Regions from separate parts of the Homo sapiens genome. Here region 2 is linked to region 1. Evidence: fine-mapped expression QTL. Tissue or cell type: blood mononuclear cells. Region 1 holds a variant in brackets; the other region holds the start of a gene. All regions are shown on one strand. Distances are from middle to middle.

The links. PIP is the estimated chance that this variant, and not a neighbour inherited with it, causes the effect.
Region 2: PIK3CG starts here. The variant in region 1 is fine-mapped to the expression of PIK3CG in blood mononuclear cells (TOPMed, PIP above 0.99).

Annotation. Positions count from the first base shown.
Region 1 is chr7:106,913,278-106,916,040 of GRCh38, forward strand. No RefSeq gene overlaps it. Among named protein-coding and RNA genes, the nearest start is that of PIK3CG, 49 kb to the left of the region's middle. The variant A/G (reference allele first, on the strand shown) is at 1,578.
Region 2 is chr7:106,863,653-106,866,415 of GRCh38, forward strand. PIK3CG (phosphatidylinositol-4,5-bisphosphate 3-kinase catalytic subunit gamma) reads left to right here and starts at 1,630. Exons shown (of 11, transcript NM_001282426.2): 1 at 1,630-1,774. RefSeq lists an enhancer at 1,702-1,801.

The DNA of each region.
Region 1 (2,763 bases):
CTATGTTGCCTAAATAAAACATAATTTAGGAAGGCTCAGTTTCTGGACAGATTTGCTGCAGTTCATTCTAGAGCCAAATGCCAAGTTTCATTTTTAATTGTCTGCTGTGTATGATTATCCGTACCAGTGGCTCCTGCTCCATTTTAGAGTATTAAGAGACCTCATTATTATTACATTACCTTGTTGCTATTTATACAAGATATTAATAGTAGGTGATAAGAAGCTTTCATTTCAGAGGCTTTATTTTCTCGGATTTGGTTTGGTTTGGTTTGGTTTGGTTTGAGATAGGGTCTTGCTCCAACCCAGGCTGGAGTGCAGTAGTATGATCATGGCTCACTGCAGTCTTGACTGCCTGGGCTCAAGCAGTCCTCCCACCTCAGCCTCCCAAGTAGTTGGGACAGAAGCATGCACCACCACACTCGGCTAATTTTTTTATGTTTTGTAGAGATGAGGTCTCACTGTGTTGTCCAGGCTGGTCTCAAACTCCTGGGCTCAAGCGATCCTTTCACCTTGGCCTCTCAAAGTGCTGGGATTACAGGCATGAGCCACAATGCCTGGCTCTGCTCTGGTTTTAAAATAGTGTAGGAATAGAACACATTCTTCACTACTGCTAAAAAAAAAAAATCCCCTCACAGGGCCAGCAGACAGAAGAGCACAGGAACACTTGAAGTCAGCAGAGAACCTTAAAGAGAACTTGTGGAGCAGTTTCTCAAACTTCACCATGTACATGTATCACCTGGGGTTGCAGACTCTGATTCCACAGGTCTAGGGTGGGCTCTTAGGTTCTGCATTTCCAACAAGCTCCCAGGTGAAGCCAATGCTGGCAGTCCCCAGGCCACACTTTGCATAGCAAGGCTCTGTAGGACATAGAGGCAGATTCAGTGAATGAGGAAAGTCAAATCAACAAGAGGGCTGAAAATATGTACCAATCTGTGTTGCGCAATACTTCTCAGAGACATGAATTGTCATCATACATGATGAACTACACACATACATGCATCATCAATCTCTTTTTTCAAATGGTGCCTCAATTTTCTCAGCCATAAAAGAGGCCTGATAATACCTAGCTCTGTGGGAGGTAGACCCCTAATATGGTCCTCATGATCTTAGCCTCCTGGTTCTCATGCCTTTGCGTGATCCCCTTCCTTTGAGTATGAACTGGACCTGTCAACTTGCTTCTAACAAATAAAACATGACAAAGGCGGTACAATTTCACTTCCAAGATTAGGTTATAAAAAGCCTGTCACTTTCACCTTGCAGGCATTCTCTAGCTCTCTTTTGAACCTGCTCAGCTTGATGGAGGCCCTTGCCATGTAGTGAGATGCTCTGTAGAAAGATCTATGTGGCAAGGAACCCAGGGAGGTCTCCAGCCAACAGCTCGTGAGGAATAGAATTCTGCCAGCACCCGCACTGGTGAGTCGGGGTGGGTATCCTTTCAAGTCAAGCCTTGGGAGAGACCCAGAGCTATATCATCCTGCTAAGCCATCCCTGGATTCCTGACCTATGGAAACTATGAGATAATAAATACTGTGGTTTTAGGCCACCAAGTTTGGGGATAATTTGTTATGTGGCAATAG[A/G]TAACTAATACATTTCAGAGTTTTCATGAAGATTAAAGAAGACAAACACATTAATGTATGGGTAAGAACTTAGCATAGCGCCTAGCACATGGGAGTTACTTGATGGTGTCAGTTAAATCTAAAAACAGCCAAGTCACAAACATCACCAGTACTTGTAAACAGCACCTGCAGCCAGTAAACTAAGGATAATCCATGTGTATAAAGTTTGCTAGTTTCCCCTTGTCAAGAAACTTTCAGACCCAAAAGTCTGACTAATACAAATAAGTAAAAAGAAACAACTAAATGTCCACAGGTGTGTTACATATATGTAGACAAACCCACTTTTAAAATGTAAGATTGGGCCGGGCGTGGTGGCTCACGCCTGTAATCCCAGCACTTTGGGAGGCCAAGGTGGGCAGATCACCTGAGGTCAGGATTTCGAGACCAGCCTAGCCAACATAGTGAAACCCCGTCTCTACTAAAAAAAAACACAAAAAATTAGCTGGGCTGGTGGCAGATGCCTGTAATCCCAGCTATTCGGGAGGCTGAGGCAGGAGAATCGATTGAACCTGGAGGCGGAGGTTGCAGTGAGCCAAGATCATGCCATTGCACTCCAGCCTGGGGGACAAGAGTGAGACTTTATCTCAAAAATAAAAATAAAATAAATAAAATGTAAGATTGTTTTTTTTCCCCCTAGATCTTGGAGCAAGATCAAGTGCCCCAGCAGGTACTCAGGCAATGATGATGATGATGATAATGATGATGATGATGATGATGATGATGATGATGGTGGAAGGGGAGCTCCCACTCAGCTGTGTTTTGTAAAATGATGATCCCACTTTTTCTTCTCATTTCCCCTCTCCTAACTTCTAGTTTATTCAAAGAAGCAAGTTCAATCGCAAGCATCAAGCTAAATGGAAACTATCAAGAAACATTTAAGGGAAGTCAGTCCCAGGCTTAAAGCTGCTACTCTCTTAATAGCAATAACAGCCATTCATCCTCAGCTAGAAAGAAAGAAAAGGATCAGCATTCAGACAGCTCTTGCAGAAGCCCTCAAAAGGCCTGAATGATTGTTAGCCATGCTTTTGCTTCTGCCTTCATTTAGATTTTAGCAAACACTGCCACAGATCACTCAGAGGTAGCTAAAACTGGCTAGGGTGGCTAATAAGATGTTGCCGAGAGCTGGAGTGAAGTCACAGATGAGAGC
Region 2 (2,763 bases), 50 kb before region 1:
GGGACTTGGCCCCCTGGAAGTGACTGAGCCAGGACAGGGAAGGGATCTATTGAATGGTCTGGGGAACAGGGCTGGCCAAGCTCATGGTCCCTCTGAGGTCAGCCCTCCCACCCTCAAACCTCCTCCCACTCCACCCACCCCCAGGAACCCTCCCACACACTCTGGGTAAAACACAGCTTGGCAAGCTCTCACATCATGGCTTGGTGGCTACAGTGTGTTGATCTTCCCTCAGGACCAACCAAGAAAGCTAGCCTTGGTGCTTCTAAAGCTGCCAGCCTCCTAAGGGAGTATTCCTATATAGGAATATACTTTGAGAAGCTGATAAGACCCCTCTAAATATTTGGGAGGCAGCCTTTGAATTAAATTATTTGCCTGCTGATGTCAACTATTAGAGTGCTATTTAAAAGTTAAAACCCAAGAGGCATATGTAAAAGGAAATAAGTCAAATCAATCATTTATCTCAATATCAGAGTAATTCAGAGGAACTCTTAATTACATACCTCCAAGAGACTTGTGAGGTCAACTCCATTCTATCTGCTGCCCTTGAAGCTCAGCTGGAGTCCCTCAACACCCCGATTGGAGGATGAACTCTAGCATAGGGAATTCTGAGATGGAGGGAGGGGGCGCTGGTTCAGGATGCTTGGAGGTTCTAGAAAGAACTGAGGTCACCTGGAAGATACAACGCTACTCTAAAAATGATTCAGGATGGCTTTTCTATGCATTCTCTACTCCCATAGGAATCAGGGGCCACCTCCCAGGATGGAATCTGCCTGATGCTGTAACAGTGTTCAGCTCCCCAATTTCCCCATGATAACAGGCAACCTCCTTCTGTTTTGTCTACAGTTAATTAATCAGTCATTGCTGACAGTAAGGCTCCATCCTCAACACAGGATATTTTCTGAAGCATTAATTTTTGTTTCAATAGTTGATCCTTGTTTGGAATATAATGTGTTACAATGTAGTGGTACTTAGTATTAAAATCAAAATACCTTTTTATTCATCTTTCAATTTTAATACTTTTAGCATTTCAACCATTATTTGAAGGGTTACTTACTGCAGTATGTCACATTTATATACACACATGCACATGCTGCAGTGCTTTCAGTTTGAGCCAGTGATATTTTAGGCCCCAAATGCTCTGAAAAAATAGAGAAAGCTCTCACCAAGCTAAGGAAGTGAGCTTGCAGACCATGCCTTTAAAAATTTTCAGCTTGATAACTTAGTCCTCAAGATGACTAGGTTTCTCTTCCCCCACCCCTCAGTTAGCATGTGCGAACAAGGATTCTTTTGAATTCCCAGGAGGGGAATGAGTTTAATTTGACTGGTAAAAGTCTTCCTAATAGGATACCTAATACTGTGGCTCTTAGAACTAGCTACAAAGATATTTCATATGTTTATGTCTCATAATGGGTAATTTTGGTTTGGATTTATGTCATTTTGTCTCAGTATCACAATTTTTGAAAAATTAGTTCAAAGAGAAAAAAAAAAGAAAAGAAAAACCATGGTAAACATTGCTCAGTCTCATACTCCTACCCTCTCTATGCTAAAACAGGAAATGCATTTCTGACACTTTTAAAATGAGCAATCACACGTATAATCAACTTGGTTAAAACTTCCTTCCTGGTAACTGCAACACTTCCTCTGCATCTGGATATGAAGGGAGCCCCAGAAAAGCGGAAGAATTTAGACGCACACTGGGTAGGTTTGAATTTGTTTTGTTTTCAAAAATTAAACAAATGATCCTTCAGCATCATCGCCTCCGCTGCTTTATCAGGTATTGCTTCCTTCTATTTTTTGCTCTTTGTGGGGTCTGACTCGGAATAGTGGCACTTCCTTCTCGGCTAGATTATCTGAAACTGTTGTCGGTTCTTGAGATGATACTACCACCGAATGTCTGTGTTTCATTGTCTAGTCCAACCTGTATTGTGGATATCTACAACGTTCCGGCAATAGTTTTGCAGGTGCATCACATTTTTGTTTTTGTTTTGGGAGGAAAAGGGAGGGCACGGCAGCCAGGCTTCATATTCCTACAAGTGCATGCTTCAAGATTACTGTACTTACAGTGTTTCCAACATCTTCTCATAAAAGGGGAAAGCTTCATAGCCTCAACCATGAAGGAAACCAGTGAGTATTAGTCAGCCTGTTTTCCTCTGCATCTTATAAGATCGTTTGGTATCACTGAGGCAGAAGTTATTGCTGTGTATTTATATGCTGCCTAAATTTGGACATGTTTTATTTCAAGTTAGTGTCAATATCAATGTATCTTACAGTTCTCTTCTTTGTTAGTTATTCTATAATGTAGCAAAAGACCAAAATGAATGTTTTAAGCCACAAGAGACAGTTCTTTGGGACAGTTGGTTTCACTTACTAAGTATAACTTCATATTTTAAGAGAGGGAATATTGGTTTTAAAAGTTAAGCCAAGATTTGAACATAAGTTTGGATCAAATGAAATTTGTCTTTCTTATCTTCTTATCAAGCTCTCCTTTTTGGTATACATCAAATGCTCCACTATTTCTTAAGGAAATAATGTAGTTTTAAGTCTAACATTAGTTATTTAAGAGAGTAAACGATATTTTCTGAAACATTAATTTTTTGTTTCAATAATTGATTCGTTTAGAATATAATGTATTACAATGTAGTGATACTAAACATTGAAAGCAAAATACCTAATCTTTCAGTGTTAATACCTTTCAAATTTCAATTATTATTTGAAGGATTTCCTATTGCAGTATGTCCTATTTATACATAAGTGCTTTGTGAA